Regions from separate parts of the Homo sapiens genome. Here region 2 is linked to region 1. Evidence: fine-mapped expression QTL. A gene starts in region 1. The other region holds a variant in brackets. All regions are shown on one strand. Distances are from middle to middle.

Region 1 (15,690 bases):
ATGCCACTGGTACAAATATTAGGCTGGAATTGATAAAGTAGGGGGAGCAAAGTAGTGCATTCAGTGAGGCACCTGGAGTCAGTGAGGTGGGTTCTCCCCACAGCTCTGACTCTGGCATCGGGCAAAACACCTTATTTCTCTGAGCTCATGGGTAGAACGAGCTATTTTGAGGTTCAAATAAAATAATGGATATCAACATGCTTTCTTGGCCCATAAAAGCATCTATCTACACACCATCTTAAAGTTCTGAAAACTTAAAAAAAAAACAAAAATACATAAAAACTGTCACTTGTGAAATTTGTAGAGAGGTTAATGATCAGTAAAACTTTCATGCAATAACTTTCTCTAGTCTCTAAGAAGAGCAGAAGGTCTAACAATGAACAGACTCTCCCTGACTCCACGCCCACAGGCCCGTGCACAGCACCCCAGCCTCACCAGACAACGTTCCTCGATCCTCAGCATCGCTGTCACTGTCCACAATGTCATTATGCTTCTCGATGTCTGCCAAAGACTGGCCATAATGAGTCAATTCTTCATCTTCATTTAGATTGTAGATGCTTTTTTTCTCATGATGTCGCTGACAGAAGAGAAAAAAAGTTTCCTAAAATTACCACTTCCATTTCACAGCAAAAAAAAAAAGATAAGGTAGATATATATATTTCCATTATATTTGAAATATGACAACGAATCCTAAGCAGCCTTAAAGAGTATTTTGGGTCAACTAAGCAATGATTCATGATTCAGACAGAAATGAAACTCATGGAGGGTAATTCTTTTTTTTCCTTCAGACAGAGTCTCGCTCTGTTGCCCAGGCTGGAGTGCGGTAGAGTGATCTGGGCTCACTGCAACCTCTGACTCCCTGGTTCAAGTGATTCTCCTGCCTCAGCCTCCTGAGTAGCTGGGATTATAGGCATGCGCCACCACGCCTGGCTAATTTTTGTATTTTTAGTAGAGACGGGGTTTCATCACGTTGGCCAGGATGGTCTCGATCTCCTGACCTCATGATCCACCCACCTCAGCCTCCCAAAGTGCTGGGATTACAGGCATGAGCCACCGCGCCCGGCCTCATGGAGGGGAATTCTTAAATAAGCCCAGGGGCCAGTTTCCACTCCAGCAATGCTGCTCAGCTGAGAACTCCTGTGCACACTGCTGCCGTGTAGTAGAGTTAAGGCATTTATCCATTCAGCTAACATTTGCAGAAGAGGTTGCTTCTCCTTTGGCCTAGCCAGATAAGGCACAGGATTCGAGGGCTATCCCCTGGACCTTCCGAGTGCCCAGGAACATGCAAAACATGCAGAGTCAGCCTTCTCCTTGGCCTTGACTTCCCTGTGAAATGTACAGCAAAAACCCTCCTCCAGTTTCTTTCCATACCTGCTGTTCCAGAGCAAACCTCTTCATCATCTTCTCCTCGGGGCTCATGTTGCTGTTGTATTCTCCGAAGCGTTTATCTCTGAATACATTGGATTTATCCCTTTCTTTGTACTCTTTTAGTAAAGTCTGTGTACGCTGGAAAACAGGTCAGAAACAATCTCACAAAAAATTCTTGTGATTTCCACTACAGGGGACATCAGAACAGTGCATACTTTAAAGTTCAGGGCTATGCACAGTGATGTCAAAGTTCACACCCAATCTGCTTTCATGCACGATAGGCTTTCTCTACTAATCACAGAATTTTGAGAAGAGCAAAACAACTTTCAAGGATAATGGGGCAATCACTTTCTTTTCTTCTTTAGAGTCTACCGGTGCCAAAAGGAAGGGTAAAAAAGAACACACTAGTCAAGCTCAAGGCATGAATGGCTCCCTCGGCTGTAACAGCTGCCTTAAGGTTTAAAACGTGCACATTTGGAAAAGTGGAAATGGGTTTAGACTCCTTCCGTCATGGAGGAGGGTACTATTTCCCATCAAAGGTACTCCTAAGAAATGTGTAGTTGTGAGTTCATACTAGACACAAGGCAATAAACAAGTTAGCGAGGTCACAGTTTAGGGGCTTCACCTTTATAACACCAAGAGGAGCAATATTTTAAATACGGTTAGCAAGTATCAAATAATTTGGTTATTTTCCCAGCAGCAACAAAAAAAGACCAAGTTTAACAGTATTCAAAGTTGGCTGTCCTGGAGGTTGAATTCCCTAAAGAAAGCTGTGAGAGGACAGAGATGGGTGAGGAACGAGTGGCCTCTGCAACCTGAGATGGCCACATTGCAAACTCTTTCTTGCTGCGGAACTTCTTCTATTTGCTAAGGAACTGCCATTACACTGGTGTTTACACAGCAATTCCGAAAGGAAATGGCATCAAGGCAAAATCTTGATGCCATGGAAGGCCCTTGGAATGATCCAATTCAGTGGTTTTACAAACCCACCACAAATCGGTGCCTCGGCAGACATTTGAAACCTCTCATCTAACCCGACTTAAGTGTTCCTTGCCTTCCTCAGGGATTCCTCTAATTTGTGAAGTCACTTTGAAAGAATGCGTGCGTGTGGCAGGAGGGAGCGTGTGGTGACTTGGTCACTGCCACTCTGGTTCCAAGTTCTGTTTCAGGAGGGGACAGGTCAGATTTTGCTCCAGACATAGGTCACTTCCCCAGGGTCGGAGATGAACTTAAAGGCTAAGAAACCCAGATTTAAGGTCAAAACCAGGAGCTGGAAGAGGAGGAAAAGAGAGTGGAAGGGGTTAAGAAGCAGCTGGGCAAGAGCAGAAGATGCTCCAGCAGGGACAGAAGCACGACCTGGCCCTCCTTTCCATTTAGAGCACATTCCATCTGGAGAGGTCAACCGAAATATTAATCATGTGGACAGGAGAAAAGGATGTGAAAAAACCATTTCTCTTATCTCACTTTGAAATGTGAAAGTGCTATTATTACACTTAAAATGCATGAAAAACCCCTCTGCTACCTGAAGAGTAGGAAACCATCCATTAGTTCAATAAATACTGCCAAGGCAATTTTCGTCATTTTCTTCAAGAATATTTCAAGAACCAATTTGTTTCAACTGACACACGCTGAGTTATTAATCCCTAGTAACTTCTAGTAACTTCCTACCGTGGCAGTGCTAAACAATGTTTGTTAAAAACACCTTTGGGGCCGGGCGCGGTGGCTCACGCCTGTAATTCCAGCACTCTGGGAGGCCAAGGCGGGCGGATCACGAGGTTAGAAGATCAAGACCATCCTGGGTAACATGGTGAAACCCCGTCTCTACTAAAAATACAAAAAAATTAGCCGGGTGTGGTGGCGGGCGCCTGTAGTCCCAGCTACTCAGGAGGCTGAGGCAGGAGAATGGCGTGAACCCGGGAAGTGGAGCTTGCAGTGAGCTGAGATTGTGCCACTGCACTCCAGCCTGGGCGACAGACAAAGACTCTGTCTCAAAAACAAAAAAAAACAAAAAACACAAACAAACCACCTTGGGTACAATTTCCTGAACCAGAGTCTAAAGACAGCGAGTGTCCCCAGATAGACCAGAGGGCTCCATCGCCATTGCTCTGTTCTCTCCGCTTCTGTTACGAGCCATTCCAGAGCGAGATCCTGCTGGATGCTGATAGTGAACCACACACAGTACTGAATCAGGTTAAGCTCTCTGAACCTTCACCATTCTTTATCCGCAGAGCAAAATTTTAAAACAACATCTCACTATTTAAATCACAAGGTCTAGCTGGCAATCAGATGGGAGCACATTACATGTGCTAGCCTGTACTGCTCGATGAACTCTGTACGGACAGAGGCTGCTTGCATGCTACACTGAGACCTTTTTTTTTTTTTTTAAAGATGGAATCTCGCTCTGTCGCCCAGGCTGGAGTGCAGTGGCACAATCTCAGCTCACTACAACCTCCACCTGCCGGGTTCAAGCAATTCTCCTGCCTCAGCCTCCCCAGTAGCTGGGATTACAGGCGCACGCTGCCACGCCCAGCTAATTTTTTTGTATTTTTAGTAGAGATGGGGTTTCACCGTGTTGCCCAGGCTGGTTTCGAACTCCTGAGCTCAGGCAATCTGCCTGCCTCGGCCTCCCAAAGTGCTAGGATCACAGGTGTGAGCCACCAAACCCAGCATACACCGAGAAGACTTCTGAGGTCTGTCCCTGCAGAGGGAGGGAGTGTCACTGGCTTCTAGCAGGAAGGGGGTAGATGGGGCAGGCATCAGCCATCTCTGCCTCTAAAAATATTAGTTCTCATTATCTGGAATATGATTCTATGGGTAAATCTTAGTGAAGAACAGCCCTTAGGCTATAAATACGTAATATGAGTTATTCTACATTATTGTGATTCTCTTTCTTTCTTAAACTATATAGATGTTGTGACATCATATGGAATTTACGGCATAAAATGGGGATAACAGTACTTCCCCCTCATAACGGTGAGGATTAAATGTAAACCGTGTGGCACAAGGCCTGACCAACTGTAAGGGACCAGTAACTATATTATTAATATAGTTACTATATATTATTATATTAATATTATATTAATATTATAATCACATTAATATTAATATATTAATATTATAATCACATTAATATTAATATATTAATATTATAATCACATTAATATTAATATATTAATATTATAATCACATTAATATTAATATATTAATATTATAATCACATTATCAATATATTAATATTATAATCACATTATCAATATATTAATATTATAATTACATTATTATTATATTATTATATCAATATTATATTAATATTATATCGATATTATTTTAATATTATATCAATATTATTATATTAATATTATATCAATATTATATTAATATTATATCGATATTATTTTAATATTATATCAATATTATTATATTAATATTATATCAATATTATATTAATACTACATCAATATTATATTAATACTATATTAATATTATAATAATATATTAATATTTTAATAATATATTAATATTATAATAATATATTAATATACTAATATAATAATATATTAATATGCTATTACAATAATATATTAATATGCTAATATTATAATAATATATTAATATATTAATATTGTTAGTATATTAATATATAGTAACTATATTAATAATATAGTTAGTATATTAATATATAGTAACTATATTAATATAGTTACTGATTTAAGAACTACATTAATATAACTTATTTTATAAATTATTTCAGAAATAAGGAAACTGAGGCACAGCTATAAAGCAATGTCCTGAGACTGGCACCTGGGGGCTGCCCTCTTCCTGCCAGACTGAGTGCCTCAGAGTGCTACAACTGACCAGAGGGGAGAAGCCAACTGAGGCAGCCTGTTTACTTCTAAGGGACTAACCCACATGAAAAGACCCAGGCCTCCTGCGCCGGCCTCACGGCCCCTACACGCGTTATCAAGCTTGGAGTCAACTGGACGACCTGCTGTCCCTCAGACAGCTGTGAGTGCCACACTTCACCATACCGGGACAATGTGCCTTTGCATGTGTGTCCTCTGCCCACCCTGGGCCCATGAACAGCTCACTCCCCTTGCAAAACTTGACTGTAACTCCCTCTAGAAGAATTTTTGGACTTTCCTAACTATTACACTTTTTCCTGACCGGGATCTCCTAAGGCACTCAGGTTCCATCTTTGATTTCTTCAAATATTTGTGTTTCTTCCAAGGGCCAAGCATTGGAGATCCAAAAAGGAGCAGCAATTCCCGTCCCCGTCCCAGGCCTTCAGCACAGGGCAGGGAGGTGGATCTGCTCAATACCAGAAGTTTGAGCAACCTGTCCTATTTGGGTTACATAGCTTGGGTGGTGAACCTGAGCTGGCCCTTTAGAGACTTTCGGAGGTAAGGCAGACCTTTTGGACAAACTGAGTTGCAAGAGGCGAAGCAAGGACAACAGCCAGACTGTGCGGGACTCGAACGACAAGCCAAGAAGGTTAAGAATAACAGTATTTAGAGAACACTTGCTGTGTGCTCTATGTGCTATCTTACTTAATTCTCACAAACCACCACGAGGGGTAGGATGTATACTATCATCTCTACTTTTGAAATGAGAAAACTGAGGCTTCAGTGGTGAAGACAAATGTGTCTCTTCTAGGGAACCACACTACCTTATTCTCCCACCCCGGCCCGGGGGTGTGTAATGAGGGACTCCTATCGAAGTCAGCTGTAAGTCTATCTTGCCTATTCATTATACAGGCTGTCGTCTTCGCGCAGTAAGGATAATATGTGTTTTGATTCAAAGACCATCCAGCTTGCACACTGTGATGAACAGAGATCAGGAGCTCATGAAGGCAAGGGCAAGTCTTATTTACCTTTATCTCCCCGAACCTAGAAGCGAGGTCAAACAGAAGCGCTCGGGGTAGCAAGAAGGCTTTGTAGATATTGAAATGTGAATGCATGCCCAGCCCTTACCAGGTGCGTGACCTTAGGAAATGCACTTGTCCTTTCTGTGCCTTAATTTTTTCACCAACCTGCTAATGTATGTTCCTCAGTGAAAATTTAAAAAAAAAAAAGTTAAAAAAACTAGGAAGCAATGAGTTTCCATAGAGTTACTTCCCAAGGAACAAGGTTACGCGCTTCGGGAGAGAGCCGATGAAACATCAAACGCAGCATCCTACACAGCCCCTATCCACCGTCCCCAAACCTGCAGAGCTCAAAGTAAACGCGGAAGGGTTAACAAGCAGCTTGGTCCAGGGCGCCGCCCGAAGTGACTGACTCGGCCTGACCCGGTTGGAGGAGTCGCCGAAATAACACGAGTGCAGGGTCTCCAAGACGGCGAGAGTTTCCAGGTCACTCCAGCTCAGAGAACAGCAGAGGCTTTCGGACTATCAAGTCAGTGCCGTGTGCCTGTCACGGCCTGTGCCGCTCAACGAGGAAACCGACGCACCGAGAAGGACGCAGCCGGCCGAGAGCAGCGTGGGGTCCAGATCCTGCCTTCCGGCTCCCCGTGCGCCCCCCGCTTACCTTCCTGAGGGCCCGTGCGCGAGACACCCCGGGCAGTCCCACGTCGTGGCGCGTCTTCCGGCCCAGGATCTGGAACTTCTGCCTGTTAACTTTCACCTCGAACGGATTGGAGTTGGCCTTCGCCGGGCCCCCTCGCGCTCCCGCCGGCGCCCCGGAGGCCTTCCTTCGCGCCCCGACCTTCTTCGCCTTCGCCATGGCGCGCGCCCCGCTGCGCCCAAGGGCCCGAGACCCGAAGAGAGACAGGCGCGCGCTACCCTAAGACACGTGCCGGGCCGCGGAACCGCTTCCTCGTCTCGCGAGAACAGCGCAGCACCTCCGACTCGCGAGAAGTAAACACCGCGCCCGCAGGCTCGGCTTACTCGCCGATAGGCTCAGCGACTACAACTCCCAGCAGGCCACGCGCCGCGGCCCGCCGTGTACTCTTGGCGCAGGGCCTTCTGGGAGCTGTAGTGCCCCGGCCGCGGCGGCGAGGGGCGCTCCCTCTTCAGCTAAGCCGTTAGCGCCGAGCCCGCCCGGGAGCGGGTCGCCGGCCGCGGCGGGCGCCCCTGCCAGTGAGCCCCTGTCCGAAGTGAGCCACGGCATTGACTCGGGGCTGCCCGGGGGCAGGGCACTGAGGAGGGAGTTGCGCGCGCGAGGCGAGGGCGATGGGGCCAAGAAGAACCGGGGCGATAGCGCGGCAGCGGTGACAGCTGGGACCCGCCGCGGTCGGGCTGCCCCCTCCCCTCGCCCCGACCGCTCCCCTGCTGGTGAGGGCCTGCGGAGGCGGCGGCGGCGGCGCCCTTGGTGGCAGTGGTGGCGGCGGAGCAGCCTCCCGGGATCGTGTCCGGAGCTCGAGGAGAGGGTGGTGCCCGGCGAGCTATGCACGGGGGCGGCGGCGTCTCCTCCTGTTCCGCCTCCTCAGTCTCCTCGGTCTCGCAGAATCCGCCGGCGGCGGCGGCGCCAGGACATGGAGCTCGAGAACATCGTGGCCAACTCGCTGCTGCTGAAAGCGCGTCAAGGTGGGTGCGCGGCAGGCGCCCCCGACCCCCCCCCCAGAGAACCCCGAATCCCGGGGAACCCTGGCCCCCCTGAAGGAACCCGACATCCCCGGAGAACCCCGATTTCCCTGGAGAGCCCCGACACCTCCCACTGGGGGAACCCAGATCTGCACGGAGCCGGAGCCGGGGTCTGTGCAGTGTGGTCAGGCTGCCCGGGCCAGGTCCCAGTCCCCATCTCCTGGCCCAGATGAGAGAAGTCTGCGCTTTGCTCTTCTTAGTCTTGCCCTGTGTCCTTGTCCTGTCCTCTCGGTGTGACCTCGGTGACAGTGTTGCTTCAGGATGCGGCAGGCAGTGTCCTGCTTGTGTTGGACAACCTGTCCCACCAAAAAAGAACGGCGTCTTTATGGTCTTAAGGGGGACAAAGAATAGCAGCCTGGGAACTACTCTGGGCGAGAACCTTCCGATAATGATTGTAGGGCAATGTTATTTTTAACATAGCTGCTTGGTTTTGAGGTTTGATCTGAGGCTCTATGGTGTGTCAAGTGTGCTTTAGCACGACGTGGTCACAGATGGACAAGTTGGCAAAAATTCAGCCTTTTATCATTATTAAAGTGAGGCAGAAATTTAAAAATAGTAATAAGTACTGCATTCATTCACTCCAAGAAAAGAAAAAGCCAAGGCCCAGAATGTGGCAAGGCAAGGGTTAAAAAGAAAAGAAGAACAAGTTTTCTTTTGCTTAGCAAGCTCACTTTAAGGACAGTTATAAGATAACGCTGTTCTGTTTGAGAAGTCGAATCCAAAGGAATAGGCTCCAGACACCCCCCTTCCAGAGCAGGGGTGAAGAAAAAAAAAAAAGAGGACAAATATCTGTGTTTAGCCAGTTCTTGGTTTTTTCTTTCAACGCAGCTACAAGGCCACCAGCTATGCAAGGCCACAAGTTATGCCAAGTCATCAGTTATGCTATAGATTATGTGACCTGTCATTATATGATTAACTGCCTTTGTTTTGCTTCTGTAAGTTTGCTTATAAAAATCCTGCTTAGTCTTTGTTCAAGGCTCAGCTTTTTGGATGTGAATCCACTGAGCTGGTGCGTACCTTAACATAAATATCCTCCTGTTTTCACCCATGCTGGTCTCTCTAGTCCTCTGCATCCCGCCACAAAAGCATCAGTTGGTCCAGCCCTTCAGCGGGAGACCCCCACAATCCTCTGTGCAATCCTCTGTCTCGGACCTCATGTCTCCCTTGCCTGCGTCTCAAGAGAGCTGGCGACAGAGCCTCGGACCTCAAGTCCCTGTGCTAGCCACGGTAGTTCTTCACACCCCGTCACTCTTACGGAATTGCTGATTTCCTCTATTTCCTTGCGTGATGGAGCAGCTCTGCTCGGACTGTGCTCCAGGACAGTGTAAATGCCGACTGAAGATGCCACAGCAGCCGGCGATGCATATTTAAAGGACAGTCTGGAGCCGAAGGTGGCGGCCACGCTTGTAGTCCCAGCTACTCTGGAAGCTGAGGTGGAAGGCTCACTTGGGCCCAGGAGAGTCCAGCCTGGGCAAAACACAGCAAGACCATCTCTTTAAAAAAGTCTAAAACAAAGACTTCATCTTCTCAGTATTTTTGTGCACCAACTCACACTATTTTGAATAGAAGAACTGAGAATGGGTGGGAAGAGAATGGGATCTTTTTCCCTTAAGATAATCAGGGAGTCCCAGAGCAGTATGCGTTCTCAGCAGCCATTTTCAGTGGAGCATTTGACTGTGCCTCTTATCCCTGACTGTGAACTCCAAATAGGTCATGGAAAATAATCATCCTTAGTGGAAGTCAGATTGAAGCTAAGCCAGTTTTCTTTTTACACTACCTTCCTATCTGCATGTAATTTACAAAAAGGAACTATACCAAGCCGCCTTCCTTATAATGCTGCAGAGATTAGATAATGAGATAAATACAAGTGCTCTATAAATGCTAAATAACATAAAACCAGATTCTGTCACAAAACCTAAGACCACAGTGATAGTTTGAAAAATGAAAGTTTTGGCCGGGCACGGTGGCTCACAGCTGTAATCCCAGCACTTTTGGAGGCCGAGGCGGGCGGATCACAAGGTCAGGAGATTGAGACCATCCTGGCTAACATGGTGAAACCCCGTCTCTACTAAAAATACAAAAATTAGCCGGGCGTGGTGGCGGGCGCCTGTAGTCCCAGCTACATGGGAGGCTGAGGCAGGAGAATGGCGTGAACCCTGGAGGCAGAGCTTGCAGTGAGCCGAGATCGCGCCACGGCACTCCAGCCTGGGTGACAGAGCGAGACTCCGTCTCGAAAAAAAAAAAAAAGAAAGTTTTAATTTTTTCCCTGAAATATCTCATATTAACTCCACAGTAGTGTGATTATGAGGCCTGTCCCCATTGAGTGAGAGTATTTGCTCCTGTGGTCAGAAAGCATCATTATGTATAGCTTGATTAATGGTTAGAGAAGTTGAATATATAATATTAGATATACATGGATACATGCTGAGTATTGGTTATAATTTAGGGCTTTTTCCCAAGTTGATGACTGTGTTTGTTACTTTAAAGTATCTCCCAGGAAGTACCAGGAGGTGTCTTCTTGGACACATAACTTCATGGACAGCTCCTTGTTTAGCTTCACTGGCTCATATACTAGAAAATTAACCTTTGAAATGAATGAACGTAGCACAAGAGTTATATTCTGGTCCTGAGAAGCGCAATGTTGATTTAATATTATTAGTGAGTCCGGTCATTTCCTGGATTTATTTCAAATAGAATCAGTCAGTCTCAATCCCCCCTCCCTCTCTGGTCCCTGCTATGGTCTGAATATTTGTGTTCCCCCAAAATTCTTATGTTGAAATCTTCACTACGAAGGGGATGGAATTAGGAGGTGGGGCATTTGGGAGGTGATTGGGTCATGAGAGTGGAACCCTCGTGAATGGTATTAGTGCCTTTATAAAAGAAACTAGAGAGACACCCCTCACTCCTTCTACCATGGACACAGAAAGAAGATGCCAGCTATGAATCAGAAAGTGGGCCCTCACCAGACACCAAATCTGTCTTGATCTTGGACTTTTTAGCTTCCAGAACTGTGAGAAATACATTTCTGCAATTTATAAGCTACTCAGTTTATAGTATTTTGTTAGAGCAGCTTGAACAGACTAAGATGGTCTAAACAGAAGATTGTTAGAGCCTTTTCCTTTCAGGAATGTTGGCAGATGATGCTGCACTGAAAGTGTTTGTGTGTCACTCTGCCAGGGACATGAAGGAAGCGTGAAATGATCATATTGGTTTGGTCTTATTTTGTTTCGTTTTGTTTTGAGACAGAGTCTCACTCTGTCACCCAGGCTGGAGTGCAGTGGTATGATCTCAGCACACTGCAACCTCTGCCGCCTGGGTTCAAGTGATTCTCCTGCCTCAGCCTCCCAAGTAGCTGGGACTACAGGCACCCACCATTCCCGGCTAATTTTTTGTATTTTTAGTAGAGACAAGGTTTTGCCATGTTGGCCAGGCTAGTCTTGAACTCCTGACCTCAAGTGATTCGCCCACCTCAGCCTCCCAAAGTGCTGGGATTACAGGCGTGAGCCACTGCACCCGGCCCGTATTGGGTTTTTGTTGGTGTTTTGTTTTATTTTTTTTTCCTTGATATAATTCATAGGTTCATAGATCATATTGTTAATAAATATAAAAACAATTTTTTTTTGAGGCGTCGTTTTGCTCTTGTTGCCCAGGCTGGAGTGCAATGGCGCAATCGTGATCTCGGCTCACTGCAACCTCTGCCTCCCGGGTTCAAGAAATTCTCCTGCCTCAGTCTCCCGAGTAGCTGGGATTACAGGCATGCACCATTATGCCTGGCTAATTTTGTATTTTTAGTAGAGACGGGGGTTTCTCCATGTTGGTCAGGCTGGTCTCGAACTCCTGATCACAGGTGATCCACCCGCCTCAGCCTCCCAAAGTACTGGGATTACAGGCGTGAGCCACTGTGCCCGGCCTGTTTTGTTTTTTTTTTTAATTTAGGATTTTTTCCCTGTATAATATTATTTGTTAAGCAACTTATAACTTTTATGCTTTAAATAAGCTTAAATTATTTCACATCATACTTCTGAGGAGACTTTAACACCGTCTTATCTCTTGGAGAAATTGAAAACAAATGCAGAGAGGAATACGTAATACGTGCATTTAATGTGGGTTTTGGTCTTATATATTGCAATTCTGTTCTGATTTCAGGCTGCGGTGTTATTGAGCAGTTTCTTTAACACCTGCAGCATGGTTAATATACCTGTTATTATTAATGCTGTCTCTTGCTGAGGCTTCCTCCCTAGAACTTTTGCTAACTTAAGCAAATAGGAAATTTATGGAGAAGATATTGGGTAGCTCAAAGAATCAAAGTAAGAACCTAACAATCAGTCTGGAAAGAACAGGATGTGGGACTCATTCATTCATGCATTCATTTGGCAGATGTGTGCTCAGAATGTTCCAGGTACTGTTCCTATAGCAATAAACAACATGTTCAGAAATTCCTGCCATTCTGGAGACCACATTCTTATAGGGGAGGCAGTCTTGAGGCACATAAATAAGACGTGTGGCATATTAGCAAGCAGTGAGTGCCACGGGAGACTACAGCAGGGATGGGGGTAGGAAGCGCCCAGGTGGCATTGGTAGTTGCAGTTTTGGATAGTTTTAGACAGGGGGCTGCTGATTGATAATCAGGTCTCCACGGTCACTCCTGTGACAGAGCAGGTATCTTTTTATTTTATTTATCTGATTTTGCCTCATGAATTTCATGATTCTTATCCTGGGAGAGAGCACCAATTGGCTGGCTTGGCTCTGGCCCCCTTCCTGCATCCGTGGCTAAGGGGGAACCAGGCAGCTGGAATGACAGTCCCACCAAGACATACACCGTGGGGGAGAAGTAAGGGAAGGGCTGCAGAAGAAACCAACAAAGGGCCATTGCAAGGGCCTGTTTACATGACATAGTAAGCAGGCATAGGCCATATGCGCTAGGGCCAGAGGGGTAGCTAGGAGAACGGAGAGGAAAGAGGAGATCAGAGAGATGCTGAAGGTAGAAGACACTGGATAGAGGAGCGATTGCAGAGAATCCTCAAAGTTGCCTTTGAAATTCCCTAGCTGAGGAAATTAAAAGACTGCTCTTTCTAGTCTTGAACTCCTGACCTCAAATGATCCACCCGCCTTGCCCTTCCAAATTGTTGGGATTCCAGGTGTGAGCCACTGTGCCTGGCCAAATTTTCTTTTCTTTTCTTTTCTTTCTTTCTTTCTTTTCTTTTTTTTTTTTTTTAAAGAGAGTTTCGCTCTTGTTGCCCAGGCTGGAGTGCAATGGCACAATCTCGGCTCACCGCAACCTCCGCCTCCTGGGTTCAAGCGATTCTCCTGCCTCAGCCTCCCAAGTAGCTGGGATTACAGGCATGCACTACCACGCCCGGCTAATTTTGTATTTTTAGTAAAGATGGGGTTTCTCCATGTTGGTCAGGCTGGTCTCGAACTCCCAACCTCAGGTGATCCGCCCACCTCGGCCTCCCAAAGTGCTAGGATTTACAGGCGTGAGCCATGGTGCCCAGCCTTTTTTTTTTTTAAAGACAGGGTCTCACTCTGTTACCCCGCTGGAGTGCAGGTGGGGAAATCATAGCTACTGAAGCCTCAAAGCCTTGAACTCTGGGGCCAAGCAGTCCTCCTGTCTCAGACTCCCAAGTGGCTGGGACCACAGGCATGCGCTGCCATGCACAGATAATTTTGTGGTTTTTGTGGAGATGGGGTCTCACTATGTTGCCCAGGCTAGTCTGGAACCCCTGGACTCAAGTGATCCTACCCTCCCACTTCAGCCTCCCAAAGTGCTGGGATTACAGGGTGAACCACTACACCCGGCCTATTAGAATTTTCAACAGCATGTAAGATCAAGTTTTCTAGAAAGAGTTATAAACTTAGTATTTCTTATCTGTCAGATATTTGAAGTAATCTATGTAGTAGTCAGCCAAATTATTTCTCTGCCAACAAAAGGTTACCCCATTTTCCCTAAGCAATAATGTCTACCGTCTGTTACTATCATTATGGTACAGCTAATTTGGGATGCTATCAATCAGCCAGGTTATTAGCAACCAGGTCAGTTTGGTTTTCTTATATTTTCTACTTTGTCTATCTAGATTATAATGGCTTTAAATCAGGATTTTTATTTCTTGGTCAGTGAATCAAATATTGGGTTATTGGCTTTATGCTACTTTAGGACCAAAAATATCTATACCACTGATACTATAAAATAATATTCTTGGCCAGGCACGGTGGCTCATGCCTGTAATCCCAGCACTTTGGGAGGCCAAGGCGGGCGGATCACGAGGTCCAGGTATCGAGACAATCCTGGCCAACATGGTGAAACCCCGTCTCTACTAAAAATACAAAAATTAGCCAGGCATGGTGGCATGCACCTGTAGTCCGAGCTACTCGGGAGGCTGAGGCGGGAGAATCACTTGAACCCGGGAGGTGGAGGTTGCAGTGAGCCGAGATCGTGCCACTGCACTCCAACCTGGCGACACGGTGAGACTCCATCTCAAAAAAAAAAAAAAATGTTCTTTTTTTTTGGGGGGGTCAGTCTCGCTCTGTCGCCCAGGCTGGAGTGCAGTGGCGTGATCTCAGCTCACTGCAAGCTCTGCCTCCCAGGTTCACGCCATTCTCCTGTCTCAGCCTCCCCAGCAGCTGGGACTACAGGCACACGCCGCCATGCCTGGCTAATTTTTTTGCATTTTTAGTAGAGATGGAGTTTCACTGTGTTAGCCAGGATGGTCTCGATCTCCTGACCTTGTGATCTGCCCGCCTCGGCCTCCCAAAGTGCTGGGATTACAGGTGTGAGCCACCGCGCCTGGCCAAAAGAATGTTCTTGAGCTTTATATTTTGACCCAAATTAGGCAATAGTTACCTTAAAGAAAAATGATACAGTCAAAATCATTTTGGCTTTATTAAAGCTCCTCAAAAAACTCTAGAATTAGGGCTTTCTTAAGTTACTTTTTAGCAGAAACATTTACGGTATTTTGTACATATGTGTGCAAAGTTGCTTATTAACATTTATGTCATGGTCATAAAGACTAATTTGGTAACAATATTCAGTCTCCAGTAAATATGTGGTTAATTGATATGCAAATTACTTCCAAAGTACAAATTAATAGTCTCATATTACATTTTTGTGCTTTGCTACCTTTACCTCAAACAAAATAATCTGTAGGATTCTTCATGCTTGTTTCAGCACCTTTTGCCCAGCTTTGCTTGCTTCATTGGCCAGAGGACTGTCAGCACCTCATGAAGCCCTTTATATGCTTCTCTGAGGTCATTTGCATAATGTTGTGGCCTATAGTAGGTTCTCAATAAATACCTGATGGATGAATGAATGAATAAGGATGAGGAAATGAACACGGTAGGTATGCCTGGATCTGAAGCAGAAGTGGCCCAAAAATGGAAGGAAAAGAAACTTGGCAGGAATAGCAGGAAGAAGAAAGCGGGGAGGACAGTATTGTGTGAGTTTGCTAGGGCTGTGTAACAAAGTGATACAAACCTGATGTCTCCCGCAACAGACATTTATTGTCTCACAGTCTTGGAGGCCGGAGTGCAAAATCAAGTTGTGAGTGGAGCTGGTTCCTTCTGTGGGCTGTGAGGAAGAATCTGTCGCAGGCCTCTCTCCCAGCCTCTGCTGGCTCGCTGGCAGTCTCTGGTGTCCCCTGGCTTGGAGGTGCATCATTCTGATCTGTCTTCATCTTCACGTGGCGTGCCCTCTGTGGGTGTGTCTGTGTCCAATTTTCCATTTTTATAAGGATACCAATCATGTTGGA
Region 2 (15,690 bases), 950 kb before region 1:
GGATTAATATTCAGAATGAAAAAAGGAATGCTTGTAAATCGACGAGAAAAAGACCGACAATAGACAAATGTGCAGAAGATAAGAATAGGCAATTCACAGCCTGGCCATCATAGTGAAACCCCGTTTCTACTAAAAATACGAAAACAGTGGGGCGTGGTGGTTCATGCCTGTCATCCCAGCTACTCAGGAGGCTGAGGCAGGAGAATCGCTTGAACCCAGGAGGCAGAGGTTGGAGGGAGCGGAAATCACACCACTGAACTCAGGCGTGGGCCACAGAGCGAGACTCTGTCTCAAAAAAAAAAAAAAAAAAAAAAGCAATTCGTAGGAGAAACCCAAATACCGGAGAAGCACATGGAGAGATGCTTAAATTCATCAGCAACCTGACAAACCCAAATTAAAATAACAAGATGCCTCATTACACCTATCAGATTGCAAAATTAGAAAGCCAAAGTTTTTTTCATTTTAAAACATGGTATCCAGTTGTTCCCATATTATTTGTCGAAATGACGATCCTTTCTGGACTTTTCTATCCTGACTTACTCATCTATCTTTATGCCAATACCAGACTGTCTTGGTTACTATAGCTTTCTAAAATAAGTGTTGAAATCAGGTAGTGTTAATTCTCTGACTTTTTTTTTTTTAAAGTTATTTGGGTTATTTTAGGTCCTCTGTATTTCCTTTTTTTTTTTTTTTTTTTTTTTTTTTTTTGAGGCAAGGTCTGGCTCTGTTGCCCAAGCTGGAGTGCAGTGATGCAATCTCAGCTTGCTTCAGCCTCTACCTCCTGCGTTCAAGTAATTCTCATGGCTCAGCCTTGCAAGTAGCTGGGAATACAGGCATGCACCACCAAACCTGGCTAATTTTTGTATTTTCAGTAGAGACGGGGTTTCACCCTGTTGGCCAGGCTGGTCTAGAACTCCTGACCGCAAGTGATCCACCCACCTCAGCCTTCCAAAGTGCTGGGATTACAGGTGAGCCACAGTGCCCAGCCTGCATTTCCATATAAATTTTAGAATCGTTTGTCAATTTCTACAAAAAAAAAAAAAGGCTTCTGGCATTTTGAGTGGAATTGTGTTGAATCTGTAGGTCAGTTGAGGGAGAACTGGTAACTTCTGTCTAGTGAACATAGTATTTCTCTCTGTTTATTTGGGTCTTTAAATTCTCTCAGCTAGGCTCATGGCTATGTAATCCCAGCACTTTGGGAGGCCGAGGAGGGTGGATTGCTTGAGCCCAGGAGTTGGAAACCAGCCTCAGTAACGTGGCGAAACCCCATCTCTACAACAAATATAAAAAGCTGGGCTGGTGGTGCGCCTGTAGTCCCAGCTACTTAGGAGGTTGAGGTGGGAGGATCACTTGAGCTCAGGAGTTCAAGACCAGCCTGAGCCACATGGTGGGACTCTGTCTCTAAAAAATTAAAAATAAATTAAAAAATAAATTTTCTCAGCCCCATTTTGTAGTGTTCAATGTAAGGGTCTTGCACATCTTTTCAGAATTGCCTCCAAGTATTGCATAACCTTGATGTGGTTGTAAAGGGTGTTGTTTAAAATTTTTAATTTATCAGTGTTTGTCGCCAGTATATAGAAATACAACAGATTTTTGTGTGTTGATTTTGTATCCTGCAGCCTGGCTAAACGCATTTATTTGTTCCAGTAGTTTTTTCATACATTGTATTAGTTTTCTGCAAAGACAATCATGCCATTTGTGAAGGCAGTTTTATCTTTTTTTCTAATTTATTTGCCTGACTCTGCAACATAAAGAGTCCTTATTTTGGCTGGGCATGGTGGCTCACATCTATAATCCCAGCACTTTGAGAGGCTGAGGCAGGCGGGTCACCTGAGGTCAGGAGTTCGAGACCAGCCTGGCCAACATGGTGAAACCCCATCTCTACTAAAAATACAAAAAATTAGCTGGGCGTGGTGGCAGGCGCTTGTAATTCCAGCTACCCAGGAGGCTGAGGCAGGAGAATCGCTTGAAACCAGGAGGCGGAGGTTGTAGTTAGCGGAGATCGTGCCATTGCACTCCAGCCTGGGCAACAAGAGGGAAACTCCATCTCAAAATCGAGACCAGCCTGGCCAACATGGTAAAACCCCGTCTCTACTAAAAATACAAAAATTAGCTGGACGTGGTGGCAGGCGCCTGTAATCCCAGCTACTTGGGAGGCTGAGGCAGGGGAATTGCTTGAACCCGGGAGGCGAAGGTTGCAGTGAGTTGAGATCGTGCCATTGCACTCCAGCCTGGGCGACCAAAGGGAAAAAAAAAGTCCTTATTTTTACTTTAAAGCAATAAATTTTACAACTTTACTGAATTTCTAAAAAAAAACCCTAGTGGTATTTTGATTGGCTTTCCATTGGGTTTGTAGATTAATTTAGAGAGAACTGACATCTTTATATAGTATATGATACACAGACAAGCTTTCATTTTTCTTTCTTTATGATCTTCAGTAGACGTTACTATTTTTCTCCATACAGTTTTTTTTTTTTTTAAGAGAGGGTCTTACTCTGTTGCCCAGGCTGGAATGCAGTGGTGCGATCTCAGCTCACTGCAGCCTCCGCCTCCCAAGCTCAAGCGATTCTCATGCCTCAGCCTTTCAAGTAGCTGGGACTACAGGCATATGCTACCATGCCCAGCTAATTTTTGTGTTTTTCTCTTTTTTGATATAGAGTCTCGCTCTGTTGGTGAGGCTGGGGTGCAGTGGCGCGATCTCGGCTCGCTGCAACCTCCGCCTCCCGGGGTCAAGCAATTCTCCTGCCTCTCACCTTCCCTAGTAGCCTCCGCCTCCCGGGTTCAAGTGATTCTCATCGCTCAGCCTCCTGAGTAGCTGGGATTACAGGCATGCAACACCAAGCCTGGCTAATTTTTGTATTTTCGGTAGAGACGGGATTTCACCATGTTGGCCAGGCTGGTCTCGAACTCCTGATCTCAGATCCGCCCACCTCGGCCTCCCAAACTGTTGGGATCCAGGTGTGAGCCACCACACCCAGCCTATTTTTGTGGTTTGTTTGTTTGTTTAGTAGAGATGGGGTTTTGCCATGTTGGCCAGGCTGGTCTCCAACTCCTGGCCTTGAGTGATCTCCCCGCCTTGGCCTCCCAAAGTGCTGAGATTATAGGAATGAGCCACCACGCCTGGCCAGTTCTTTCTTACTTATTTTTTTTAGAGATAGCGTCTCACTCTTGCCTAGGCTGGAGTGCAGCCGTACAATCTTGGCTCACTGCAGCCTCATAGCTGAGACTACAGGCGCGTGCCACCATGCCCAGCTAGCTTTTGAAATTTTTGTAGAGATGAAGTCTCACTATGTAGAGATGACGTCTCAAACTCTTGGCCTCAAGCAATCCTCCCACCTTGGCCTGCCAAAGAGCTGGGATAACAGGTGTGCACCACCGCGCCAGGCCTCATACAGTTCCTAATCATTTTCATTAGCTTAACTCAGATGCCTTAGTGTATTTCATGCTCTTATGAATGATATCCTGTATTCTATTTTCCAGTTGGTTATTATGAATACGAGAAATACTATTTTTTAAGTTGGACATACATCCAACAACCTTTATGGACTCCTATATTTATTCTAATAGTGGGTTGATTTAGTTGGTTATTCTGAATATTTCATTTACAGACAATGACAGTTCTGTGTCTTCCATGTATATTTATACTTTTCCTTTATTATTTTTTTGGTATTGGCCAAAGATTCCAGTCCTGTTGAACATTAGCAGGGCAGTAAGAATCCTGTTGTCTTGCTTTCAGTCGTAAAGGTATATGTCCAATTTTTTTTTCACAAGGCAGGGTCTTGCTATATTGCCCAGGCTAGTCTCAAACTCTTGGGCTCAAGGGATCCTCCTGCCTCTGCCTCCCGCCTCTGCCTCCCAAAGTGCTGAGCCTCCACACCTGGCCCATGTCTAAATTTTATCCATGAAATAATCTAAGTTATTAGTGGATCACCTTTGTCCACTTAAGGAAGTTTTCTTGTTTCCTTTATGTTCCAGAGTTTTCATCCTAACAGTGTTTCTCTTTAAGAAAAATGAGCTTTTCCGCATCTGTTGAGAAAATCTCACGCTGCCCTTCCTTTAGGCTATGAATGTGGTGCCCAAGGTCATGATAGGATCTCTGATGTTCAACCGTCCCTGTGCTCCTCAGAGGAGCCTTACTTGTCAAGATGAATTATCTTTCAGGGCCAGGGCCCGGGCAAGGGGAGAGAGCTGAGGGAGGCTTAACAGGGGTCAGAACACTCAGCCATCACAACAAATGGTATTTGAATGCAATATTTTAAAAACTCAAAATCAATGCCAGAAAAAATCAATGATAAACAACATACTGAAATTTTAAACAAAGACAGATAGTAACAGTGCCATGTCAAGCCATATTGGAGCTGAGGCAAGAAAACCAATCAGTGATACTGATGCTGTCTTCATTTAAAATTTTATATTTTGTTCACCATAGTTTTTTTGCATGAGTTTTGACTCTTTAAGGTAGTGTATTAAAATATTTACCTTTTAAAATATTTTTTCTTTTAAATTATTTTCCTTTTATAGGAGCTACTAATTGAAAAATATTTATCTTAATAACTATTTTGGAACCTCCTGAATATTTTGCCCAAAGCAAGTGCTTCACATACGTCACCCTAATCACAACCCTGTTTCTCTTAATTCGCTGTGAATTTCTTTAAAATTTGCACCTCTGATTATGAGTGAATTGTCCTATAATTTTATTTGTATATATTCATTTTTATCTAGATTGGGAATTATGGCTTTCTAGCCTTTTATTTATTTATTTGAGACGGAGTCTTGCTCTGTCGCCCAGGCTGGAGTGCAGTGGCACGATCTCCGCTCACTGCAAGCTCCACCTCCTGGGTTCACGCCATTCTCCTGCCTCAGTGTCCTGAGTAGCTGGGACTACAGGAACCCGCCACGACGCCCGGCTAATTTTTTTTTTTTTTTTTAAGTAGAGACGGGGTTTCACCGTGTTAGCCAGGATGGTCTTGATCTCCTGACCTTGTGATCCGCCTGCCTCAGCCTCCCAAAGTGCTGGGATTACAGGTGTGAGCCACCGTGCCCAGCCTAGCCTTTTAAATAAGTTGGCAAGACTTTTCATCTATTCTCAGCAGCTGTGTAAAGGCAGGAGTGACCTCTCCCCTGTTGACTTTGTGTCTGCCTCTGGGCTTTCTGTAGAGTAGGTTTAGAGGCCTTTCAAATCTCAGTGCGGCCCTGCCTGCAAGCTGCTAGAGGCTACCTTTGCCTGCATGATCTATCAGAGACTTCTCTGGCTCTTTCCGTTTTAGGACTCCCTCCTGACTTCCTGGAAATTGTGTGGGTCCAGGCTCTGTTTTCTGGTTTGTAAATCCAGAAAGACAGTCAGTTTTCTGTTAGGGTTATCTGCTTGCACCATGCCGGGGCTCCCTAGCTGTCCTCAGGCTTAAGCTTTGAAAATGGCCTTAAAACTCACCAGGATCAGTCAGCTGTGGTGGCTCATGCCTGTGATCCCAACACTTTGGAAGGCCGAGGCAGGTGGATCACCTGAGGTCAGGAGTTCAAAACCAGCCTGGCCAACATGGCAAAACCCCATCTCTACTAAAAATACAAAAATTAGCCGGGCACAGTGGTGGGCACCTGTAATCCCAGCTACTCAGGAGGCTGAGGCAGGAGCATTGCTTGAATCCGGGAGGCAGAGGTCGCAGTGAGCTGAGATCACACCATTGCACTCCAGCCTGGGCAACAGAGCAAGACTTTGTCTCAAACAAACAAACAAATTCACCAGGCTGGTCCTTTCCTCCAAGTTTTTACTTCCCTCCAAAATCCGCTTGCTTTGGTTTATGCTCCAAAGCCTTTAATCAGTGGGAGGGTTGGCCTGTTAGCTATCCCGCCATACTTTTCACTGTTACATGAGTCCATTAAGTGATATGTTTGCTTATTTTTATTCTTATTTTTTTGAGACGGATTCTCACTCTGTCGCCCAGGCTGGAGTGCAGTAGTGTGATCTTGGCTCACTGCAAGCTCCGCCTCCCGGGTTCTGGCCGTTCTCCTGCCTCAGCCTCCTGAGTATCTGGGACTACAAGTCGCCCGCCACCACGCCCGGCTAATTTTTTGTATTTTTATTAGAGATGGGGTTTCACCGTGTTAGCCAGCATGGTCTCGATCTCCTCACCTCGTGATCCGCCCGCCTCAGCCTCCCAAAGTGCTGGGATTACAGGTGTGAGCCACCATGCCCGGCCATGTTTGCTTATTTTTTAAGGTGCCCTAGATCAAATTAAAGAAGTTCCCTTCTATTCCTAATTTGCTACAGGTTTTTAAAAATCATGACCAACATTTAATTTTATCAAATGTTCTTATAAAATGTTTTGTTGTGCATACTGAGATGATTGTATGATTTTTTCACCTTTATTTTGTAAATGTGATGAATTACATTGATTGCCTTTCAAATTACATAAACCTTACTTTCCTAGAATAAGCCCAACTTGGACTATGTTATTCTTTTTTACACGTTGCTAGATTTCGCTTGTTAGTATTTTATCTAGACTACTAATGCTTTGTTCATGAGGAGAGCCTTTACAGTGTTGGGTTAAGTTTATGCAGCCTCTTGCAGTGAGTGGATCCCTCTTCTCACCTTACCTGGGAGAAGCCCTCTAGGTCATCACCACACCAGCAGCCAGTCCTAATCGGCTGCTACGACGGCTCCTGGAAGCTGGAGAAAAAAATGATGACAGAGAAAATGAGGTGGAAGGCTGGGCACAGTGGCTCATGCCTGTAATCCCAGCACTTTGGGAGGCCGAGGCAGGTGGATCATGAGGTCAAGAGATCAAGACCATCCTGGCCAACATGGTGAAACCCTGTCTCTACTAAAAATACAAAAATTAACTGGGCGTGGTGGCTCATGCCTGTAATCCCAGCTACACAGGAGGCTGAGGCAGGAGAATCGCTTGAACCTGGGAGGTGGAGGTTGCCGTGAGCTGAGATCGTGCCATTGCACTCCAGCCTGGGCACCAAGCGTGAGACTCCGTCTCAAAAAAAAAAAAAAAAAAAGAAAGAAAGAAAATGAAAAAAAAAAAGAGATGGAAAAGACAGAGGGGCCTTGGCAGAATATTGAGGACGGGATGAGAATTGAGACCACCTGTGTCCACTTAACTCTTGGGATCAAGAGCTGAGATCACCTGTGTCAACCTGATTTAATGATTATTTCCAGAAAATTCTTTCCAGGAAGATAAAACTAAATCAGTCAATCACTGTTTGCTTCAGGAAAATCTTGCAGAACAATGTATCCTGGCACATAGTTTACCAATCTGGGAACCAGCTCACTCATCAGAACCTTCATCTGGCTGTGTTTCTCTGTCCTGCACTGTTGGGCCATAAGCTCTGTCCTATCCCAATGAGTCCTTGCACTGAAAGACAGACCATCAACCATCTGAGCCCAGATTCTAAAATCCTATGAGGCCAGGCGCACTTTGGGAGGCTGAGGTGGGAGGATTGCGTGAGCCCAGGAGTTAGAGACCAGCCTTGGCAACACAGCAAGACTCTGTCTCTACAAAACACTAAAAAATTAGCCGGGTGTGGTGGAGCACACCTGTAGTCCCAGCTACTTGGGAGGTTGATGGGGGAGGATTGCTTGAGCCCAGGAGGTTGAGGCTGCAGTGAGCTGTGGTTGCACCACTGCAATCTAGCCCGGGCAACAGAGCAAGACCCTGTCTCTAAAAATAAACAAGTTTTCTGGGAGTCACTGTTGAGTTGTTGGCAGTGAATGGTCCTAAATGTTCCCATGGGATTCGGCTGAGACGGCCTCCCCAGGATGGCCTGAGACCTGCGACTGGAACCAGCACTCTCCCCGTGACCCTCTGGTTTTCTTTTGTGAAAGCTCCTTGTGTTCCAGGATTGAGAAAGCCTTCTTACGTGTGCTTTGATTATCTGATGAGATGAAGATTTTGATCCTTGTGGAAACTACTTTGCTCCTAACAACAATTCTGTGTGTCCGTCTGTCCTTGTCACCTTCTGTTGTGAAGAGCTCCTTGGGAAGAGGATGAACTAACACAGGTCTGAATGTCCCTGTCTCAAGGGCACCAAGGGCCAGTGAGTTCAGATCTCGTGAATCCACTGTTCTTATCTAACAAACTAAGTCCTCATCTGCACCTTCAGTTTTGCCTTGTCTTCAGACAGATTCTCTGCTCACGCCTGTCCTCCTAGGGAGACCCTCAGGTCAGCACTGCCTTCAGTGGAGGGTTTGCAACCCCAGGTTGCGAGCTCTTGCCAGGGTGTGTGGTGGCTGGGGTCCTGCCCTCAGGAGGGGTTTCTGCTCCCGGGTGGGCGTGCTCCCGCTGTGACCTCAGTGCTCCCCTTCCCGAATGGTGCCCTTCCCTCAAAGACCACTTCGGGGCCGGGCGCGGTGGCTCACGCCTGTAATCCCAGCACTTTGGGAGGCCGAGGTGGGGCGGGTCATGAGGCCAGGAGATTGAGACCATCCTGGCTAACACGGTGAAACCCCGTCTCTACTAAAAATACAAAAAATTAGCTGGGCGTGGTGGCGGGCGCCTGTAGTCCCAGCTACTCCGGAGGCTGAGGCAGGAGAATGGCGTGAACCTGGGAGGCAGAGCTTGCAGTGAGCCGAGATGGCGCCACCGCACTCCAGCCTGGGTGACAGAGGGAGACTCCATCTCAAAAAAAAAAAAAAAAGAAAAGAAAAGAAAAATTAATTCCTAAAGGATTCCTTTATCAAATAAAAATGGGAAAACGTAAAACTCTTTCAGATCCCTCCAATTGCAATGTGAACTTTATGACCTTTATTGCACTCTTGCTGCAAGCTCCTCCACTGCCCCATCCCTCTTTTATTTATTTTTTTAGAGGCAGGGTCTTCTTATGTTGCCCAGGCTGTTCTTGAACTCCTGAGCTCAGGTGGTCTTCCCCGCTCAGCCTTTCCAGTAGCTGGAGCCCAGGCCCACACCAGCATTCCTGGCTATCTTTCAAAAATTAATTTTCATTTTAATTTTTGTACAGATGGGGTCTTTTTGTGTTGCTCAGGCTGGGATGCCCATTGTTTGAATTCATGTCCTTTCTCTTCTGTTTGGCCAGAAACCCCTAAGGCTCGACTGCCTCTTAAAGGTAAATCATCTCAGAAACAGGCAAGCCCCTTCTCTCTCTCCTTCCTTCTTTCCTTCCTTCCTTCCTTCCTCCTTCCCTCTCTCCCTCCCTCCCTACCTCCCTCCCTTCCTTCCTTCCTACCCTCTTCTTTTTCTTTTTCTTTCTCCTTCCTTTCTTCTTTCTTTTTCTTTCTTTCTTTTCTTTCTTCTTTCCTTCCTTCCTCCCTCCCTCTCCCTTTCTTCCTTTCTTCCCTCTTTCTCTTTATATCTTTCTTTCTCCTTCCTTCCTTTCTCTCTCTCTCTCTCTCTCTTTCTTTCTTTTGTTTTGTTTTTAGAGTCTTGTTCTGTTGCCCAGGATGGAGTGCAGTGGTGCCATCTCGGCTCACTGCCTACTCCGCCTCCCGGATTCACGGCATTCTCCTGCCTCAGCCTCCTGAGTAGCTGGGACTACAGGCGCCCGCCACCATGCCCGGCTAATTTTTTGTATTTTTAGTAGAGACGGGGTTTCAGCGTGTTAGCCAGGATGGTCT[T/C]GATCTCCTGACCTCATGATCCGCCCGCCTTGGCCTCCTAAAGTATTGGGATTACTGGCGTGAGCCACCGCACCCGGTCTCTTTCTTTCTTTCTTTCCCTCTTTCTTTTCTTTTCTTTTCTTTCTTTCTTTCCTTTCTTTCTTTCTTTCTTTCTTTCTTTCTTTCTTTCTTTCTTTCTTTCTTTCTTTCTTTCTTTCTTTCTTCTTTCTTTTTTCTTTTTCTTTCCATAATTTCTCTTTCTCCTTCCTTCCTTCCTTCCTTTATTTATTTTTCTTGAGATGGAGTCTCACTCTGTCACCCAGGCTGGAGTGCAGTGGCATGATCTCAGCTCATTACATCCTCCGCCTCCCAGGTTCAAGCGATTCTCTGTCTCAGCCTCCCTAGTAGCTGGGATTACAGGCGAGTGTGACCATGCCTGGCTAATTTTTGTATTTTTAGTAGAGATGGGGTTTCACCATGTTGGACAAGCTGGTCTCGAACTCCTGGGCTCGAGTAATCCACCTGCCTCGGTCTCCCAAAGTTCTGGGTTTACAGGCTTGAGCCACCATGACTGTCCTGGCTTATTTTTTAAATAACAGCTTTATTGAAGAATAATTTATATATTAAAAATTTACCCTTTTGGAAGTCCAAGCCATAGCAATCAGGCAAGAGAAAGAAATAAAAAGCATGCATATAGGAAAAAAAGTCAAACTATCTCTGTGGGGTAAAGAAAGAGAGATCGGATTGTTACTGTGTCTTTGTAGAAAAGGAAGATATAAGGAACTCCATTTTGATCTGTACTAAGAAAAATTGTTTCTGCTTTGAGATGCTGTTAACCTGTAACTTTAGTCCCAACCCTGTGCTCACAGAAACATGTGCTGTATTGAATCAAAGTTCAATGGATTTAGGGCTGTGCGGGCTGTGCCTTGTTAACAATATGTTTGCACGGCATATGCTTAGTAAAAGTCATCGCCATCCTCCATTCTCGATTAACCAGGGACACAATGCACTGCGGAAAGCCGCAGGAACCTCTGCCCAAGAAAGCCTGGGAATTGTCCAAGGTTTCCCCCAACTGAGACAGCCTGAGATATGGCCTCGTGGGAAAGGAAAGACCTTACCATCCCCCAGCCCGACACCAGTAAAGGGTCTGTGCTGAGGAGGAGGAGTGAAAGAGGGAGGCCTCTTTGCAGTTGAGATAAGAGGAAGGCTTCTGCCTCCTGCTCGTCCCTGGGAATGGAATGTCTCGGTGGAAAGCTGACGATTCCCATTCGTTCTGTTCTGAGATAGGAGAAAACCGCCCTGTGGCTGGAGGCGAGATATGCTGGCAGCAACACTGCTGTGTTACTCTTTGCTACACTGAGATGTTTGGGTAAAGAGAAACATAAATCCAGCCTACGTGCACATCCAGGCACAGTACCTTTCCTTGAACTTATTCGTGATACAGATTCCTTTGCTTACGTTTCCCTGCTGACCATCTCCCCACCTGTTGCCCTGCTACACTCCCCTCGCTAAAATAGTAAAAATAATGATCAATAAATACTGAGGGAACTCAGAGGCTGGTGCCGCTGTGGGTCCTCCGTATGCTGAGCGCCGGTCCCCTTAGCCCACTGTTCTTTCTCTGTAGTTTGTCTCTGTGTCTTATTTCTTTTCTCAGTCCCTCGTCCCACCTGACGAGAAATACCCACAGGTGTGAAGGGGCTGGCCCCCTTCAATCTCTCTTCGCTGATGCTATCATTCTATACCTAGAAAACCCTAAAACTCCACCAAAAGTCTCCTGAACTGTAATGACTGCAGTAAAGTTTCAAGATACAAAATCAACATTCAAAAGTCAGCAGTATTTCTTTTCTTTTCTTTTTTGAGACAGAGTCTTGCTCTGTCACCAGGCTGGAGTGCAGTGGCACAATCTGGGCTCAAATGATTCTCCTGCCCCAGCCTCCCAAGTAGCTGGGACTAGAGGTGCATGCCACCACGCCCAGCTAATTTTCGTTTTTTAGTAGAGACATGGTTTCACCATGTTGGCCAGGATGGTCTCAATCTCTTGACCTCGTGATCTGCCTGCCTCAGCCTCCCAAAGTGCTGGGATTACAGGTGTGAGCCACCACGCCCGGCCAGTCAGCGGCATTTGTGTAAACCAATAGCATCCAAACGGAGAGCCAAATCAAGAATGCTATCCCGTTTACAATAGCCACACACAAAAATAAAATACCTAGGAATACGTCTAACCAGGGAGGTGAAAGATATTGATAAGGAAAGTTACAAAACACTGCTGAAAGAAGTCACAGATGACACAAACAAATGGAAAAAATATCCTATGTTCATGGATTGGAATAATCAATATTGTTACAATGGCCATACTGGGCTGGGCACAGTGGCTCACACGCGTAGTCCCAGTGCTTTGGGAGGCCAAGGAAGGCCTGATCTTTGACAAAGGTAACAAAAATAAGCAATGGGGTAAGGACTCCCTATTCAATAAATGGTGCTGGGATAACTGGCTAACTATATGCAGAAGAATAAAACTGAACCCCTACCTTTCACCTTATACAAAAACTAAAGATGGATTAAAGATTTAAATGGAAGACCACAAACTATAAGAATCCTAGAAGAAAACCTAGGAAACACCATTCTGGACATCAGCCTTGGGAAAGAATTTATTACTTAAGTCCTCAAAAGCAATTGCAACAACAACAACAACAAATTGACAAGTGGGACCTAGTGACACTGAAGAGTGTACGCACAGCAAAAGAAACTATCACAGAGTAAACAGACAGCTTACCGAATAGGAGAAAATATTCTCAGAATATTCCTATGAAGGTGCGATATCCAGAATCTACAAGGATTCGGTTCAGAAGACAGGAGGGTTTGGCAGCCTTATTGCCACATTTTCTTGATGTAGAAGTGTTGCAATCTGGAAGACACAAACTTTACTAAGTGGTTAGACAAGCAAGGGCCACAAATTAGTAGTAATGATATACCTACCAAAGGTCCCAGGTGGGGTAAAAACCAGGTGAGACTTGGGAGGGCATTTCTGACAGTTGACCAGATTAGCTGGGTCTGTGCTCTGGTTATGTCTATGTAACCAGGGAGCTTGCTCATAAATCTTTTGAATGTTAACATTATTATGTCCAGAGTTGTTAATATAGGTGCAGCAGGTTTTGTTAATAACCGTACAGACTCCACCTTGTTCAGCTCGTTAAATAATCCAACACTAGTCTGTTATCAAGGATTATATTTGCCATACAGTCTAGGGATTCTTGTATTCCCTTTTAATGCCTGACCTGTGCTGGTGGCTAATGATTCTAGGGTTTGAGTCGAATTCTTCAGGGTTGACTCGTGGTAGGCAAAGTCACATCAGGGGGCTAAGATTGTCCTATTACTACCCTGATTCCTCCCAGAATTAATCCTATTGCTCATTATCTTCTGATGTTCTTAGGTCTTATGGGGTTATAGACGCGGCCCCTGGAGGGGCAAGGGTGGTCAACATACATTCACTCCTGTTCCAAGATTTTGATATGTAAGGGAAAGCTACTTCTAAAAGAACAGGTGGGCTCCCTGGGGAGCTGAGAGCTGGGTGCTGGGAGTGGTTACGGGGTGGGATTCTTCCCACTTGTGGCCACAAACAAAAACGAACCCAGTTGGGACACAAATAGAGGCCCTGTGGGGCGTGATGTGTATCCTTTCCTGCCAAGTTGGGTCTATAGAGATATTCCTTCCCTGCTCCAATGGGGGTGGTTGAACAACCTTTGTTTTCCAGGACAGGGTGGTACTCCCACCTTCCCAGATTAGACAGTTGTTTTTTCCCCTATATGCTCTGATCTTGGAGAAGGCACCATCTATAATTTCCTCACTCACAAGTGGGATCCGATTTACTTCACTGCAGCCTTGAGAATTTGGCAACAAGTTGTGTGAGAACATTGCAGGGAAGCTTCTGCTTTTGTGTCGTTAACAACACAACAGTGAATGCAAAAGAGAATCGTTAGCACACCGGAGACATAGATAGCCAGCTTTCTGGGTCCAAGTGACAGTGGTGGGGAGTGCGGTACAGGGGTAGGGAGATGGAGGTTCAGGTGAAATCCATTAAGTGGAGGAGAGTTCCACCTAACAAGTAGGGGTCTGGGTACTTTGGGATCACTGTGGTTGGTTAGGAAGTCTGGGGAGATGGCTGTGAGATTTTCCAGATAGGCCAGAAGATGGAACTCTCTGTCCTGGGGATGTTGATGACAAACCCAGCAACCATGAAGATGGTTCCCTGATGCTGTAATTTTTGAAATATTTACTATAGCATTCTGTTACCACCCACCCTGGATCAGGGTGATTGGGAGGGCAAGCAGGATAAACAGTGGCAGCATGGTGTCCAGTTAGGCCTTAGAGTGGCCTCTACACCCAACAAGGACAAAAGAGGTATTTCCCAGTGGGAGGCAGTTGGCCAGAGTGATAGAAAAGAAGTATTACAGGAAAAAGAGAAAAATTAAAACTCCTATTCCCACCCACAGCTGGTGTGCCTGGCTTGCGTAGTGGCCAGACCCTGTGCTTGCTCACTCATGCACCCCTCACCGCTCTTTGCCTGGCTCACCCTTGGCAGGCCTGGGATCCAAGCTGGTAGGATGAGCCAAGCACAGTCTGCCAGGCCAAGTGGGCAGAATGAGCCCAGTGGGCCTGAGCAAAACTCAAGAAAAGGCACCACTGGCCACAGAGGTTTCCAGCTGGTGAAGTGACACCTCAAGGATCCTGTGACAAACCCATATCATTCTGCCCCGGGCCCCCCCAAATCCCACATCCTCCTCACACTTCAAAACACAATCATGCCTTCCCAACAGTCCCCCAAAGTCTTAACACAAAAGTCCAAGTCCAAAGTCTCATCTGAGACAAGGCAAGTTCCTTCCACCTATGAGCCTGTAAAATAAAAAGCAACTAATTACTTACAAGATACAATGGGGGTACAGGCATTGGGTAAATACTCCTGTTCCAAAAGGGAGAAATTGGCCAAACAAAGGGGCTAAGGCCCCATGCAAGTCTGAAATCTAGCAGGGCAGTCATTACATCTTAAAGCTCCAAAATAATCTCTTTTGACTCCATGTCCCACACCCAGGGCATGCTGATGCAAGGGGTGGACTCCCAAGGCCTTGGGCAGTTCTGCCTCTGTGACTCTGCAGGGTACAGCCCCCACAGCTGCTTTCACAGGCTGGTGTTGAGTGCCTGCAGTATTTTCAGGTGCACAGTGGAAGCTGTCAGTGGATCTACCATTCTGGGGTCTGGAGGTTGGTGACCTTCTTCTCACAGCTCCACTAGGCAGTGCCACAGTGGGAACTCTGTGTGGGGACTCCAACCCCACATTTCACCTCCACACTGCTCTAGTAGAGGTTCTGCATGAGGGCTCTGCCCCTGCAGCAGACTTCTGCCTGGACATCCAGGTGTTTCTGTACATCCCCTGATATCTAGGTGGAGGCTCCCAGGCCTCAACTCTTGCCCTCTATACACCTGCAGGTTTAACACCACATGGAAACATTGGTGGCTTCTGGCTTGCACTCTCTGGAGCAGCAGCCTGAGATGTATCTTGGCCCATTTTAGCCACAGCTGGGGCTGGAGTGGCTGGGACGCAGGGTGCTGTGTCCTGAGGTTGCACAGAGCAGTGGGGCCCCGGGCATGGCCGACAAAACCATTTTTCCCTTCTAGGCCTCCAGACCTGTGATGGGAGGGGCTGTCATAAGTATCTCTAAATGCTTTGGAGACATATTCTCTATTTTCTTGACTATTAACATTCGGCTCCTCTTATGCAAATTTTTGCAGCAGGCTTGCTTTAATTCCTCCCCCAGAAAATGGGTTTTTCTTTTCTTTCACATGGTCAGGCTGCAAATTTTCCAAACTTTTATGCTCTGCTTCCCTTTTTTTCTTTTTCTTTTATTTTAGGTTCTGGGGTACATGTGCAGGATGTGCATGTTTGTTACATAAGTAAATGTGTGCCGTGATGGTTTGCTGCACCTATCAATCCATCATCTAGGTATTAAGCCCAGCATGCATTAGCTATTTTTCCTGATGCTCTCCCCCCTCTCCTCCCCCAGCAGGCCCCAGTGTGTGTTTTTCCCCTTTCCATGTCCCTGTGTTCTCATTGTTTGGCTCCCACTTATAAGTGAGAACAT

What was found. PIP is the estimated chance that this variant, and not a neighbour inherited with it, causes the effect.
Region 2: its variant is fine-mapped to the expression of GRK4 in vagina (GTEx, PIP 0.96).

What each region holds. Positions count from the first base shown.
Region 1 is chr4:2,956,235-2,971,924 of GRCh38, forward strand. GRK4 (G protein-coupled receptor kinase 4) reads left to right here and starts at 7,337. Exons shown (of 16, transcript NM_182982.3): 1 at 7,337-7,888. The coding sequence starts at 7,837. NOP14 (NOP14 nucleolar protein) reads right to left here and starts at 7,172. Exons shown (of 18, transcript NM_001291978.2): 1 at 6,891-7,172; 2 at 1,372-1,506; 3 at 436-577. The coding sequence starts at 7,085. RefSeq lists enhancers at 5,730-5,799, 6,830-7,363, 7,364-7,897 and silencers at 7,360-7,789, 7,960-8,009.
Region 2 is chr4:2,011,076-2,026,765 of GRCh38, forward strand. It overlaps LOC124900839, which reads right to left. Exons shown (of 4, transcript XM_047416543.1): 2 at 12,330-12,461; 3 at 6,595-6,667. Among named protein-coding and RNA genes, the nearest start is that of NELFA, 9.9 kb to the left of the region's middle. The variant T/C (reference allele first, on the strand shown) is at 9,578.